Homo sapiens: one gene and its partner. The protein of the gene in region 2 purifies or fractionates together with the protein of the main gene of each other region. This does not show direct contact. Each region holds a gene or a part of one and is shown on either strand. Other genes may lie near its edges.

Evidence for each region.
Region 1: the proteins of NAA50 (region 2) and NAA16 purify together in Homo sapiens (co-immunoprecipitation; 2 studies listed by BioGRID and IntAct, with this or other methods). This does not show direct contact.

The regions. Positions count from the first base shown.
Region 1 is NC_000013.11:41,305,875-41,314,549, forward strand, and holds the start of NAA16 (N-alpha-acetyltransferase 16, NatA auxiliary subunit), read left to right. Parts: upstream 1-5,392; 5' UTR 5,393-5,654; coding exon 5,655-5,708; intron 5,709-5,833; exon of another isoform or gene 5,834-6,164; intron 6,165-8,675. UniProt on the Homo sapiens protein: Auxillary subunit of the N-terminal acetyltransferase A (NatA) complex which displays alpha (N-terminal) acetyltransferase activity.
Region 2 is NC_000003.12:113,722,051-113,729,843, forward strand, and holds part of NAA50 (N-alpha-acetyltransferase 50), read right to left. Parts: intron 2,046-7,793; coding exon 1,909-2,045; intron 1,492-1,908; coding exon 1,372-1,491; intron 923-1,371; coding exon 856-922; intron 1-855. UniProt on the Homo sapiens protein: N-alpha-acetyltransferase that acetylates the N-terminus of proteins that retain their initiating methionine. Has a broad substrate specificity: able to acetylate the initiator methionine of most peptides, except for those with a proline in second position.

The DNA of each region.
Region 1 (8,675 bases), on a different chromosome or scaffold from region 2:
TTAAGTCCCTCATAGGACTTCATACAGTTTGGAATTACCTTATCTATTTGTTTATGTGTTTATAATCTGTCTCCTCCCACTAGGATATAAACTATGTAAAGAGAGAGAACATGCAAACTGGGAGGAGAGTAACTGATGAATAAAATTTGAGGAAAAGCAAAAAGGGATGAGATGAAGAACTCAAAGGGAGGAATAAGAGTACCTTTCTTTCTCGGAAAAAAGAGCCGGCTGGGCGCGGTGGCTCACGCCTGTAATCCCAGCACTTTGGGAGGCCGAGGTGGGCAGATTACGAGGTCAGGAGATCGAGACCATCCTGGCTAACACGGTGAAACCCCGTCTCTACTAAAAATACAAAAAAAATTAGCCGGGCGTGGTGGCGGGCGCCTGTAGTCCCAGCTACTCCGGAGGCTGAGACAGGAGAACGGCGTGAACCCGGGAGGCGGAGCTTGCAATGAGCCGAGATCGCGCCACTGCACTCCAGCCTGGGACACGGAGTGAGACTCCGTCTCAAAAAAAAAAAAAGGAAAGAAAGAAGAGCCAAGAACATGGAAGAGAGCAGAAACATCAGGGAGTCTGGGGTGGAACACGTTGTATAACCTGATAAGTTATTTTCCCATCAGCTTTTAATTACATAGTTAAATTGGCTGTGGGAATAGCAGCAAACTATTTGATTTTAGGTTGCCAGCTGGCTCTGGAAGACATGCACGTATATGGGGTGGAGAAAATCCTTTTCCAGATTCTTCTCTCCTTGTCTTTACTAGGCTGAACGAGAAGAATCAGTGGCCCATATTACATATGTAAAAAGGGCTTTGGGAATTGCAAAGGTCTTTACAGATGTGGTTACTGTTATTTTACTTTATGCATGATTCTAAAGGAGGTATGCACCGTCTGAAGTGCCAGGAAGGAGCATCTGGGTGGATGTCCATGATGGCCCCAAAAGGACTTCAGCATTTTTCCTGAGAAACAGTGAGTTCAGATTTACACAGTATTTGTTTTTTATCACAGGCTTTGAAATGACTAAGCATTAAATTCACATAACCCTGCTGTGAAACACATTATCATGTTATTATAACCCCATTTTCTGTTGAAAGGTAGAAATAAGATCTGTTCCAGACTAAACAGGAAGTCAGTAATAAGATTATAGTTACTGGTTAATCTAGGCTTTCTGATTGTGCATACATTACATCTTTTATACACATAAGGTTCAGGATGACAACTACCAGCACCGTGATTGGTGTTCTTTTCTATTCCCTCCCTCTCCCCTCACCCCCACACTAGTGTAGACAACCAAGGTGATATGGTTTGGATTTGTGCCCCCCCCACCCCAATCTCATCTTGAATCGTAACCCCCAGTGTTGGAGGAGGGGCCTGGTAGGAGGTGACTGGATCATGGGGACAGATTTTCCCCTTGCTGTTCTCATGATAGTGAGTGAGTTCTCACGATCTAGTTGTTTAAAAGTGTGTAGCACCGCTGGGCATTGTGGCTCATGCCTGTAATCCCAGCACTTTGGGAGGCTGAGGCGGGTGGATCACAAGGTCAAGAGTTCAAAACCAGCCTGGCCAACATGGTGAAACCCCATCTCTACTAAAAATACAAAAATTAGCTGGGCATGGCGGTGCATGCCTGTGGTCCCAGCTACTCAGGAGGCTGAGGCAGGAGGATTGCTTGAACCCAGGAGGTTGCAGTGACTGAGATCATGCCAGTGCACTCCAGCCTGGGTGGCAGATGAGGCTCCATCTCAAAAAAAAAAAAAGTGTGTAGCACCTCCTCTTTCACTCTATTCCTCCTGCTCCAGCCATGTAGGATGTGCCTGCTTCCCGTTTGCCTTCCACCATGATTGTAAGTTTCCTGAGGCCTCCCCAGCCATGCTTCCTGTATAGCCTGTGGAACTGTGAGCCAATTAAACTTCTTTTCTTTATAAATTACCCAGTCTCAGGTAATTTTTTATAGCAATGTGAGAACAGACTAATACAAAAGGTATGTGTGTATGGTGTGTGAAAGACAGATGAAGAAGATATTAAATATGAGTATTTATAACTATATATAACTATAGTTTATAACTAGTAGCAAACTAGTGCTGCTTTCTAGTATTTGGGATTGCAGATTTTCTTTGCGTGACTGCGCTTCCCTGGGAGATGCTGGCACGGAACTGTGTGTCCTGGGAAGTGGAAGTTGGCAGTGGGTCGGAGGCTGCAGAGTGCACGTGAAGAACCTTCCTGGGCTGCTGATTTAGGGGTTGGGGAGAGCAATGGTGAATGAGGGTGATGATTTAGCTGCTACCACAGAGAGTGAAGATAGTTAATGATTTGTAGTAAATAAGGCTGGAAGAGGCCCACAGGAAACTTTCATAAAAGATAATCGTTCCTTGTCTTCAAAATATTTACAGTTGGTACTATGCTTTTCTTCCCTTCTCTTGTATATTTCTTTTAAAAATCTAATTTGTCATTTTGAAATAGGTCTAGAAAAGTCCATGTCCTATGAGGGTCAAGTGAGGGCTTGACTGACGCACTGAAGGTTTGGCTCTTTTCGTGAGTAACCCTTCACTTCTGATGATGTAGATAAATGACAATGTAGATAAATTGGGAGCCAAAGGTTTTCAGGAATTAGTAATGCCGTGGTAAGCAAACTGTGGCTAGCAATTATGGCAGTGGTTGAGTATGAGGGTGCTGAGAGGAGGCACTTCTGTGTGCTTGCTCAGTTCTCCGGGTGGGGGACTGCCACTAGTACAGGTGCGACTAAGGCAAGCTCCTAAAGCATCTATACTTGCCTACTTCCTAACAGCTTGGGCAGCTTGGGAGCTCTGCAGAGTACACATAGGCCCTTGAACCCCCACTTTTATTTTTTTCTTTCCATTTTTTATTTTAGACTCAAGGGGTAAATGTTCAGGTTTATTACACAGGTAAATTGCATGTTGTGGGGGTTTGGTGTACAGACAGTCTTGTCACCCAGGTAATCAGCATAATACCCTATAGGTAGTTTTTTAATCTTCACCCTCCTCCTACTCTCCACCCTCAAGTAGGCCTCAGTGTCTACTGTTCCCTTATTTGTGTCCATGGGTACTCAGTGTTTATAATTCCACCTGTAAGTGAAAACATGTGGTATTTGATTTTCTGTTCCTGCATTAATTCATTTTGGATAATGGCCTCCAGCTCTACCTGTGTTGCTGCAAAGGACATGGTCTCATTCTTTTTTGTGGCTGTGTAGTATTCCATGGTGTACCACATTTTCTTTATCCAGTCCACCGATGGGCATCTAGGTTACTTCCATGTCTTTTTATTGTGAATAGTGCTGCGATGAACATACACGTGCATGTGTCCTTTTTTTTTTTGAGGCAGTTTGTTGCCCAGGCTGGAGTGCAGTGGCATGATCTTGGCTCACTGCAACCTGTCTCCCAGGCTCAATTGATCCTCGCACCTCAGCATCCCAAGTAGCTGGGACTACAGGCACTCGCCACTATGCCCAGCTAGTGTGTGTGTGTGTGTGTGTGTGTGTGTGTGTGTGTGTGTGTTTGCCATGTTGCCCCGGCTGGTCTCCAACTCCTGAGCTCAGGGTGATCCGCCTGCCTCAGCCGCCCAAAGTGCTGGGATTACAGGCGTGAGTCACTGCACCTGGCTGTGCATGTGTCTTTACGGTAGAACAATTTATATTCTTTTGGGTATATACCCAGCAATGGGATTGCTGTGGACCCCCAATTTTAATGACAGTACTTTCCCTATTTTAAAGGACTCCTATGATGCTTTAAAATCATGTGTGAAACGTAGGAGATTGAAAGAAAAAAAAAGACTCCTATGATTCTTTCATGTCCAACCAACTTAGGCTAGAAAGAAGGAAAATCAAATAGGCAGGCACTGTGGCTCACACCTGTAATCCCAGCACTTTGGAAGGCCGAGGTGGGCAGATCACCTGAGGTCGGGAGTTTGAGACCAGCCTGACCAACATGGAGAAACCCCGTCTCTACTAAAAATACTAAATTAGCCAGGTGTGGTGGTGCATGCCTGTCATCCCTGCTACTTGGGAGGCTGAGGCAGGAGAATCGCTTGAACCTGGGAGGCGGAGGTTACAGGGAGCTGAGATAGCGCCATTGCATTCCAGCCTCGGCAACAAGAACAAAACATCGTCTCAAAAAAAGGAAAATAAAAAAGGGCAGCCCAGTTCTGATTACAGCCGACTAAATGCAGTTACTCATCAATTACTTTATAGTCTCAGAAATATGCACCCATTAAGATTCAGCACATGTATAAATAAACTTATGTACCTAATGTTTACACACACCTTACTACTAACCCTACACTGAATGTATGGTTTATTCTTGCCACTGTTGTATCTTTCTAGACTCACACATTACCATCAATATGCTGCCTTTTATTTGTTGTAGAGAGTATCCCAGAGTTGGAAGATCCTGAATTTGAAGCCTGTTTCTCCCATTATTATATGGCTTTCAGGAAGGGGAACCATCTGAAGAGAAAGGGTAGGTAGACTCAGAAGACCAGTGGCCTTATAAAACCGTAATTCCGGCCAGGTGTGGTGGCTCACGCCTGTAATCCCAGCACTTTCGGAGGTTGACGCGGGGGCGGATCACGAGGTCAAGAGATCAAGACCATCCTGGCCAACATGGTGAAAGCCTGTCTCTACTAAAAATACAAAATTAGCCGGGTGTGGTGGCGCATGCCTGTAATCCCAGCCACTCGGGAGGCTGAGGCAGGAGAATCCTTTGAACTCAGGAGGCGGAGGTTGCAGTGAGCCCAGATAGCGCCACTGCACTGCAGCCTGGGCGACAAGAGCGATACTCCATCTCAAAACCAACCAACCAAACAAAAACAAAGATTGTAAATGTTTGTTTGGTTTGCCCTGGAAAGAGAAGGCTTCTACTTAGAGTCTGAATCAAGGAGGAAAAGGAAAGAAAACAAGTTCATCTTTCATCAAAAGTCTACTTTGCATCGGACACTTAAATTCCTAAATGGGGAGAAATGCAAAAAACTCTGACTCTTCAGAGTCATAACTAACATTATCTTGCGCCACAAGCTTATCAAGAGTGCAATACAAGTCAGTGTCTTCTCTTTTCTACTTAAAAGAAAATTCTCGTTTTTATTTATTACTTTATTGCAAGGAGAAGCAGACAATAAGTAGGAGTCTTATGAGGCGTTCTGATGCATAGGAGCAATGGTGAATGAGGGTGGTGACTCACCACCCCATGGGACTCCAAGGTTTTGGTGACAGCTCGCCTGAGCCCCAGGGGGTGCCGAGATTGCGGCGAGGAGAGCCGCAGCACAAGGCAAATCCACGCGGTTGGTCCCCGCTACGCCCCCGTAGTCACCCGCAGCCCCTCGCCAAAGGGCGCTCCGCGCATGCGCACAGGATCCGGCTCGGGAGGCGGACCCTGGCTGCCATCTTGCAGTGCGCGGGAACCGCCGCCGCCGCCGCTGGCCAAAAAGCGGAGCCCAGGGGAAGCGTGTCCTGCTCAGACCGCCTTCCTTCTCCATTGCCACCCGTGCCGAACAGCCAGGCTGCCCAATTGCAACTGTAGACCAATGAACTAATCCATCGCCCGCAGCCCGACTCTCAGCAGCGGTTCGTCCCGGTGCCCACCCCCGCGAAGCGGAGCGCCCGGGCACCTAGCCTCCCTGCCGGCCACCTAGCCTCCCTGCCGGCCACGATGCCGAACGTGCTGCTGCCGCCCAAGGAGAGCAACCTCTTCAAACGCATCTTGGTGAGTGGCCGTAGGCCGCGCTGCCGCCCCCCGGTCCCCGGGTCCTCGGGCCTTAAGGGCAAGCGGTCTGGCGGCGGCCGGCGCGGGCCAGGCTTGGCCTCCGCTGCCCACCGCTCTTTGTTTACCTCGGAGGTCGCGGGACCCCACTTTCCCGCTCCGGCCGGCCCACGGGGGCTGCCGAGCCGCTCCTCCGTGCGCTTCCTTTCCGCGGTCTTCTGCGGCTCGCCTCACCCCCGCCGCGCTCTTTCCAGAAACTTCACGCCGCTCTCCGCAGTGCCCGGGCACAGCCGCCTCGGCCGGTAGTGGCTGCCGTGCTCTCTGCCGCGCCGGGCTCGCAGCAGCCCCTCAGGGATCCTCCCCCGGTGGTTTATTTTGCCAGTCTCTCCTCGGCTAGGTGTTTTGCGTTCTGCATTCTCTGCTTTGCGTTTAGTTAGATTGCACAGCACACCCGCATACCTATTAAAGCGGGATCGATGCGATGGTGGAATTTTTCCTGGTTACGAGGAAATAAAACCGGCAACTTTAGGAAGCCAGGCCTGGCACCACCTCCCTTTGGGAAAAAGTTTGCCTGTTTGTAATGTACCTTATTTACCTCTTTGGAAGTGAATATTTGACTTGAAGTGCGTTTCTGAGTTGTCACCAACTTCAAAACAGCTGTTTGCTTTTTAGTCGCACAGGCCTTGCTTGAGTAATTAAAGCCGCGTGGACTGGCTGGTTTTGCATTTGAGGGGAGCATTTTTACTTTATCGCGGAGCAGAAGCCTGAATAATGGCCCCGTAGTGATGACCGCTGCGGAGCCGGGTGGGCAGTTTTCTGTGGGCTGTGTGCCAGCGTCCCTGGTAGCTTTCCAGGTTCTGTTCTTCCAAGGAGAAGAGGCAGCATTCCTTTGCTTTCCTCAGTATCCTCTGGCTACCCTAGGTTTTAAACTAATATTGTTAGTAGGTAACTGTCTTTTCTAGTTTATCTTTTCACCTGAAAAAAAGCTTTTATTTGCTAAACATGCATTTAGGTTTAAAGGTGAATTTATTGAAAGCTGGGTTGGCTATATGGCTGTTAGTTGTTGCTTAACTTTACTATAAATAAAATACTAATTTTAGAGTAATTTTAAGTATGAACAGCGGCAGATAATTCATAGTAGCTGTTCTGTTTCAAGACGATAGAAACTTCACACTTAGTCTTCAGATTAGGATACATAGTAGATGGGATAAAAATTTTAAATATTATGTGGTGCTTAGTTTTGAACCAATAATAAGATACAAATGTGAGAACATTAAAAATACGAATAATTAAAGCACGTGGCAGGTTGCTTCATTGGGCTTTGTATTTTTTTATTTTACTTCTCATGCCCTTTTATTTTACACAGCATGGAATTGGAGAAGTAATTTATTTATTTTTATTTTTAATTTTTTTTTGCCCTGGGAATCTGAAACATTAATGATAATATCATTTATAAATCGCTAGTTGGATTTCAGGACATTTGGCATCATACTTTAAAGATGACAGCACTTCTTTTCTCTTTATACGAGTTTTTTGTAGTTCAAATCATGGATCAGTGTCATAAGGAAAAAGTTACATTATTATTCTTAAATTACAAAAAAGGTAGGGTTTATCCCCAAATAAATTGGGAAATGGTAACCACTAAAAAAAAATCAATTATTTTGAGATGGAAGTCTCGGTTTGTTGGCCAGGCTACTGTCGAATTCCTGGCTTGAAGCGATCTTCCCACCTCAGCCTCCCAAATTGCTGGGATTACAGATGTGAGCTACTGTGCTCAGCCAAGCTAAACATTTTTAAATCTAGGTATGTAATGTTTCTGACAAGGTTGCGTGAATTTAGGAGGATTCTGCATAAACGAATGATTTTATCATTTCACAATTGCAATAAATGTGGGTAAAATTTGGCTACAACAAATTCCATAGCAAACAGAAGTCTCTGTAATAAAATTATCTTTAAAGTTTAGTGGATTAAAGTGCTTTGCCACCAACAGTAAAATTTTTTCTATTGAAAAAATTCAAACACATCCACACAAACTGACCAGCTGGTTTTTTACGTGTTCCACGTGGCTTGTATCTGCATGTCTTATTCCCCAGACTGGATATTAATTAGCATTACAGTTTGTTGAATTTTGGAGGTATTCCATGCCCTCTTTTAGAAAGAGACAAACCTAAAGATGGTAAATGACCAAGTGGCTAAGGTTCTCTGTCTGGTTAGTAGCAAAGTTGAGACTAGAATCTATCATTTCTGCTTAGTATATAATGGTTCCTGAGTGAATGTAGATTTGTCTTTTTTTTTTTTTTGCGAGAGTGTATCGCTTTGTCGCCCAGGCTGGAGTGCAGTGGCAAGATCTCACTGCAACCTCTGCCTCCCAGATTCAAGCGATTCTCGTGCCTCAGCCTCCTGAGTAGCTGAGATTACAGGTTGACTTGTCTTTACCCGAGTACTTGGACTCTGGGGACAGACTACCTGGTTAAGAGTTGTGGCTCTGGCACTTAATAGTTATATAAACTCTATAACTATGCCTCAGTTTCTCTATCTAAATGGGGATATCATGCATCTCATAGGCTTTCCTGGGATTTAAATAAAGAGTAAATAAGCTGTCATGGGATGAAGGAAAAAAATAACAGTGTCTGGACGTATAGTAAATGCTTCCAATAGGTGTTAACTATTATTACTGTTATTGGCAGTATGATTATTATTATTTTCAGATAACCTGGTAAGTCAGAAAAACTAGTATTTCTATTTGTCTTTCTCAGTAGTTCCTTTCTCTTGTTTTTTTCTTGTCATTTGTGAGACAGACTTGTAGTCAAACTCAGATTGTCATTTTTTATTTTAAAATATTTTTGGAATAGGCAGTATATTCACATGGTTCAAAATTTAGGTTTCTCTCCTATCCTTATCGCAGAATCACCTAGTTCCCTTCCCCAGAGGCTGTCAAGAGGCCTCAATATAAACTTTTTTTCCATGAAG
Region 2 (7,793 bases):
AATCAACAAGGGTTAGGCATGCTTACCTAAAACCTTTTGATGACAATTTTACACTTTTAATCTAATTTTTACATTTGTAAGACAGCTGGCTGAGATTAGAAGGCTCAGTGTTTATTCTTGTAGTCAACAAAGGGAAAAGTACCACAGCTATCAAAATTTTTTCACTGTAAGAGGATAAATTATTAAAAGGCCCTATTAACACACAGAAAAAAAATGATGAAAAATAAAAAACTAGGGTCTCAAAGCTTGAAGATATATCTTCCTTCTGATTGATAAAATACATGGTATGTTTTAAAAATTAAAAACGCAAGCTTTCTCAATTACTCCCAAAATAACACTGTATAATTCAATCTCTCACATGGCCAAACTAAATTATGAACATCCATGACTGTGATCTTAGTCATAACTCTTTATCTACAGCCTCTTGAGATTCAAGTACAATCTCAGCTAGGTAATCTCTGATTTTGATTATTAAACTCTACTACAAATGATCTACTACAATGTTCAAAGCTATCAACATAGCCTTGAACAAAACACACAAGGTTTTGCATGAGAAAAGTAGTATTAATAGTCTTGAATTCTGAAGGCCTGAGTTTTAATCCTGATTTCATCCCTGTGACTTTGGTGCTCTCATCCTAATATAATAAAGCAATGTGTTCTATCTCAGGTTCCTAATCTACTATTATTAATAAAACAAAACTAAACAAAACTAACAACTACTCGAATACTTTGTAACAACTACTTCCACAGTGTTTCCAAAGGCACAATAAGTGACCAGATTTTAAAGTTTCTAGTAAAGATTTCTCCTGCCAATTAAACCCCTTTGATAAGAACATTAAATATTATTTTACTTACAGATAAATGTTGTCAAAAGTACCATCTTTTTCACAGATGTTTAAGACATGATTTAACATTTTAGTTCCTGTTAATAAAATAAATAACAAACACGTGACTTCATAAATCAACCTTTAAATTATGTATCTATCCACTTGCCATCTGAACTACTTATTGAGTCCTAAAAGAATTTATGAGGTATACACTAGATATCCTTATTTTCCAAAGTTGTGTTCTCTCTCTACAATAGCTACGTATGTTTAAAACTGTTAGCAGAAGACTAACCTTTTTAAACAAGCACTTCCGGGTAGAAGAAAAACAGAAAAAGCAGAAGGGGACGTAAACAGCAAATCTATGTAGGGCTTCCAATAGAATTATGTTAATAAACACTAGTTATTTTTCACCATATTTTACATAATTCAGTAACCCTTTCTCAGTATTCCTTAAAAAGACCCAAATTAACTTACTAGGTCAGACACATTAACAAATAATATGTTTATGCTTCTCTGAAGAAGTAAAAAAACCACAATTTTTTACCTATTCCTAGCCTTCGGTAAGGTGCCAGACATCCTAGTGTCATGATGTAAAGTCTCTTCTGATTCTGTGAATGATCCACCCTACAGCATACTGCACCTACAGCAATATCATTGAAATAGGCTGCCAAGGAAAACATAAAGATATAATGTTGAACAGACAGAATAACACATTTAATCTTTTTCCCTTTTAAAGGACTACACTGTTCCTATCAACATTAAATTTCATCAACTATTTCATGAATATCAATGATCTCAAAGCTCTTATGCCATCTTAGGAAGTTTAAGCCTCCTCTAGAGTATAGCTTAAAGTGAAAACACACAGGTATACACTAAGAACACTAAGCATTTCTTTTTAAAATTCAACTGTTTTATTCAACTGATTTCTCTGAGATTTTTCTCACAACCTAGACCACTCCCATTTCCTCACTTATAAAATAAACAAACTAAATTAGTTAACTTCTTCTGCTCTATAAAAAACTAGGGTTCAAGAACAAAAAGAAAGAAAAGAAGGGAGGACAAAAAAAAAACTATATTATACCAAGTTTTGCTAGCTCGCCAACCTCCAGCACATCCTTGTAGAACTTGTCATTGTAGCTGACTGGAAAGATGACCTGATTCAATCTTTTCAACTGTTTAATATTGTGTGGTGTCACATCTCCCAGCTCGATCCGGCTACTGGAACAAATCAAAATGTACTCAATAAAACATAATTAGCCCCATTTGTTAATATGAACATATGAAAGGGGTACCAAGTCTTTTTTACATGATTGATAAATCCAACTCTTTCAGAGTTGATTTATAAGCAAATTATCATTTATAAGCAAATTTTGACAGTCATTCAATACAAATTCTACTCATAGCTTTCATATAATTACATACATTCAGGGACAAATATGGTACACAACGACTACTACAAAGGCCAGAATAACATTCTGCAAGTGTCAAAATTTTCCTTGTAGTTCATAGTTCAGAAAAATTTAGATACACCTATTTCTGGTAAAATTACAGTTCCTTTGCCCAAGTATCTTATTACTTCTAGTAATTTATTCTAAGAAAACAATGGAGGTATGCAATACCATGCACATTCTATTCATGAAAACCGTGGTCTATGAACTACCTACATCAGAGTCACAGAGGTGATATGCAAAATTCACATTCCTGGATACACATACCCCATTTTCAGAACCAGAGTTGCTGGAAACGAAACAAAGGAATCCACCATCTTGAAAATCACCCCAGGATGAAAACTATCCATTAAGAAAGCAACAGGAGTGATATGGTTTGGCTGTGTCCCCATCCAAATTTCATCTTGTAGTTCCCATAATTCCCATGTTGTGAGAGGGACCCGGCGAATCATGGGGGCGGTTGCCCTCATGCTGTTCTCGTGATAGTGAGTTCTCACAAGATCTGATGGTTTTATAAGGAGGCTTTCCTTCACTTCGCTCTCATTTCTCCTTCCTGCCACCATGTGAAGAATGATGTGTTTGCTTCCCCTTCCACCATGTTTATAGGTTTCCTGAGACCTCCCTATCCCTGCGCAACTGTGAGTCAATTAAACCTCTTTCCTTTATAAATTACCCAGTCTCGGGTATGTCTTTATTAGCAGCATGAGAAAGGACTAATAAAAGGAGCATTCCTAAGAAACCACTTGTAATCAAAACAATTGGGTCCATGGAAAAGATTAAAGCGAAAAATTTTCAGTTCCAATTTCTAACAAAGTATCAAAGGTATTCTGCCTGCAGAGCTGTAAACAAAGAATTTTTAATAGCTGAAGTGAACTTCAATACTGTTAAAGGTGGATCAAATGTGATAAGGCAAACCTGACAGCATTCTACAATTTTTTTGCTCCATCCGTATTATTTGCCCAAAAAGATGTTGTAGCATATTGTGTTTTGTAGAGAAAAAGCACATTTCAACTATATTTAACAACGGACTTTTGTTAACATATACAAAAACATGCTTGAAAGGATTTTAATTTGTAGTAGAAATTGTAATTTTAAAAACTGTATTTTGAAATGTTAAAATTTAGATTAAAATGCAAAAAAACAAAAACAGAAACAAAAAAAAACAGCTGGGCATGAAGGCCTGTAATCCCAGCACTTTGGGAGACCGGGGTGAGAGGATCCTTTGAGCCCTGGAGTTCAAGACCAACCTGGGCATATAGCAAAACTTTGTAAGAAATTTTTTTAAAAAAACTTAACCAGGTGTGGTGGCGTGCACCTATGGTCCCAGCTACTTAGAAGGCTGAAGTGAGAGGACTGCTTGAGCCTGGAAGGTCGAGGCTGCAGTAAGCTATGATTGTGTACCATTGCATTCCAGCCTGGGTGACAGACTGTCTCAAAAACAAAACAAAAAACAGCAATAATTACAGATAAAAAAAGAAATTTCTAAATTTGATTTATCTGGAGAGGAATATGATGTAATATTTTATCTTATAGTACAAAGTTCTCTAAGATGTATTACTCTATAATGCCCAGTTTGGAGAACATTCTACTTGGTAAGGAGTTAGAGGCAAAAACAAGAGACTTTTACCCCCTATTTAAGTAGTCTGTATGAAGAACACAAAAGACAGCATAAAGCATCGTTTCTGTCATACTTAGCAGTTTTGAAAGGCTTAGCTCATTTGGAACTTTATCCTTCCTGCCTTGATTATTTTTTATACCACTAATCTGTATTATTTGTTGCAACCAATGATCTTTTCATGTCTTGTATGTCTTCCTAAAATCTGAACATAGTTTCTTAGCAACCACACAGATTAAATAAACAAACATGTTAGTAAAAGGGTAAGAGATTTATATATTTAAAAAACCCCTCAGCACCATAGGAAGTTTAAAAAAGTAAAAATAAAAAAATAGACATTTTCTTGTTATAGTCTCTTCCAACTTCTAGTCACTTAAGTATAGTCTTTTCTCATCCCAAGTATTTGACAACTATAATGAATTCCCTGTATGAAATTCATGTTTTCTTTAAGTAGATTACATCTCATTCACAGAACTCCCCCTCTTCATAACACTTTTCTGACTAAAATCTACTGGGCTCACTTTCCCCACTATCTACCATTCACATAAAAAAAAAAAAAAATTGGGAGGCCAAGGTGGGCAGATCATAAGGTCAAGAGTTTGAGACCAGCCTGGCCAATATGGTGAAACTCTGTCTCTACTAAAAATACAAAAATTAGCCCGGTGTGGTGGCACGTGCCTGTAGTCACAGCTACCCGGGAGGCTGAGGCAGAAGAATCACTGGAACCCAGGAGGCAGAGGTTGCAGTGAGCCAAGATCGCACCACTGTACTCCAGCCTGGGCGAGAGAGCAAGACTCCGCCTCAAAAAAAAAAAAAAGAAAGAAAGAAAGAAAAATCTGTGGATACTGTTATCCTGTAAACTATAGAATCCTTTATTTTTCTTTTTTTGAGACAGGGTTGCTCTGTTGCCCAGGCATAATTACAGGTCACAGCAGCCTCCGCTTCTCAGGCTCAAGTGATCTTCCCACCTCAGCCTAACGAGTAGCTGAGGAAGGCACATGCCACCACGCCCAGCTGATTTTTGAATTTTTTGTAGAGACAGGGTTTCACCATGTTGCCCAGGCTGGTCTACAGTTCCTGAGCTCAAGTGATCCGCCCACCTTGGCCTACCAAAGTGCTGGGCCTACAGGCGTGAGCCACTGTGCCTGGCCAAAATATAGGATCCTTTAAAAATGCAGTAGCTGACAGGGATCACATCTTACCTACACTGTCTCCTGTTTAACTTACCATAGTGCCACAAGTTGGGTGTAGTAATTTTTTTATATACAGTTTGTATTAATTTAGAGCATCTCATTTAAAAAAAAGTCTTAGTATTTAAAAAGTGATTTAAAATTACATTATGAAGTTGAAGTATCAACAATAATAGTAACTTAAGAACCTACAAAGTCAAGCTTCTAAAGTATAAATGAAAGAACTTGAGGTTTTTAAAACTTTAGGAATCATTTGTAGGTAGTAACTAGGCTTCAAGCATACTTACAGTTTTCAAAGAATAATACCAGGTATTTCTTGACTTCATACAAGAAGAAAAAGTGGTTATAGTGCACTGTGCTACAATGAGTCTAATAAAAGTTAACTACTAAAAAAAGTTTCCATTAGGGTGGCCAGATAAAGCCTAAATAGAGAAAACAATATTGAACCATTAGGAAATAGGCAGCTTAATCTTCCCCTAACTAATTAAAAAAATACATGCCTTTTTTTTTTTTAAAGCACACCATAGAAATGACGTAGAAAGGGAAAATATCCTGCAATAATATGGCCAGAAATAAGTTTGCTGATAGTCTTCCAATATTTTTCTATGCGCGTTATATATATGTATATACACGCTTTAAACAAATTTGAGATTTAAGTATTGTTTGGTAGCTGTTGGAAAAATTAAGCTGTTTTTGAGAAATTAATTTGATTTTTGCAAGAAACAAATATGCTAGAAAAATTTCAAAATGTTCACTTAATGTAACCTTGTCAGCAAAACTGAGCTTCAAATATAGTTTAACTCTCATTAACATGATATGTCTGACTGAAATGGAATACTTCTGTAATCCTGATCACTTAGCTCCAAATTATTTTAAGACATGGATTTTCTAAATATATCAAAGTACTATAATCAACTTGTAAATATAAGTTAGCAAGGAACACGGAGTTAAAAAAAAAAAAAGGCATAAGCATAAGGGATATGTAGACATGTCAAGAAAATAACATTACTTGAATGTAAACAACCAAAAAGGTTTTAGTTAGAATAACCTATAAAAAATTAAGTTAAAAGTCCAAATTCTCTATTAAAAAACTAACCTAATGGAGATTTAAAAAATTCTGTCAATCTAAATTTTTCTAAAGTTCTTATGAACATAATAGAGTTGCCTAAAGCATAAATCAATTATATTTCAATAAATATTTGAGTATCTATGTGTTATGCATCTGGAATGCAAAGGTGTTTACATCTGGTAGGAAAGACAGGTATATACAATGTGCTACTAACAGTGTATGTACATATAGTACAAAAATAATACTAGAATGAAGGTGACAATGGGAAACATTTTGAAGAACGACTAGCTTATCCTGTGGAAGGGCAAGAGATGCAGTCTAATAAAACATGAACAAAACAGCAGTGATGTAGTCCGAAAATCAGTCAGTTTGATATGGCTAAAACATCAAGTATGCTTGTGTATAAATGCGGAAGCTGAAAAAGAACCAATTTTATGACGGCCTCGTATATGGACGCATTTGGTTATCTTCTCTATAATTATTCTCTTGGTGATCTCATTCAATCTTGTAGTTGTGTGGCTTTAATGCTGCCAATTTCCAAATTTCTGTCTCTAGCCTATAGTTCACTCCTGAACTCTACATTCCTAGATCCAAGCAATCTCCAGCAGACACTTCAAAGTGAACATACTGCAAACAATTTCAAATCTTTGTTCCAAAATCTGCTTTGCTTGCAGTTTTTCCTGTCAATTGATGGCCTCTCCATCCTTGGCTGCAGTATATGTTAACTCCAAGTCTTTGTTCACATGGTATCTCAAAAAGGCTTACTCTTGATACACTTTTTTCCTTTTCTTTTTTTTTTTTTTTGAGACGGAGTCTCCCTCTGTTGCTCAGGCTGGAGTGTAGCGGTGCAATCTCAGCTTATTGCAACCTCCGCATCCTGGGTTCAAGCAATCCTCCTGCCTCAGCCTCCTAAACAGCTGTCATTACAAGCATGTGCCACCACTCCTAACTAATTTTTGTATTTTTAGTAGAGATGGGGTTTCACCATGTTGGCCAGGCTGGTCTTGAAATTATGGCCTCAAGTGATAGGCTCGCCCACCCTGGCCTCCCAAAGTGTTGGGATTATAGGCGTGAGCCACTGCACCCAGCCCTTGTAATATTCTTGATATGTTTTCTTATCAGGGTTATCTTGGCCTCAAAGAAAGTTTGGAAGTGTTTCTTCCTTTCTGCTGTTTCATTCAATCAATAAAAGAAAGCTTCAGGTATTTTCAAATTAGAAAGTGCACAAATATTTAGGACTACTGTTGATAATTTGACGCTTTTATCATTTTGAAATATCCTTTTTGCTGGCAATACTCCTTGTTTTAAAGTCTACTTTGTTCATTAATACGCAGTTTTCTTTCTTTCTTTTTTTTTTTTTGAGATGAGGGTCTCAACTCTGTTGCCCAGGCTAGAGTGCAGTAGCACAGTCTTGGCTTGCTGCAAGCTCCGCCTACGGGCTCAGGGGATCCTCCTGCCTCAGCCTTCCAAGTAGCTGAGACCTCAAATGCATGCCACCACTTTCAGCTATTTTTGTTTTGTTTTGTTTTTGTATTTTTGGTAGAGACAGGATTTCACCATGTTGCTCAGGCTGGTCTTGAACTCCTGAACTCAAGCAATCCACCTGCCTCAGCCTCCCAAAGTGCTGGGATTACAGGGATGAGC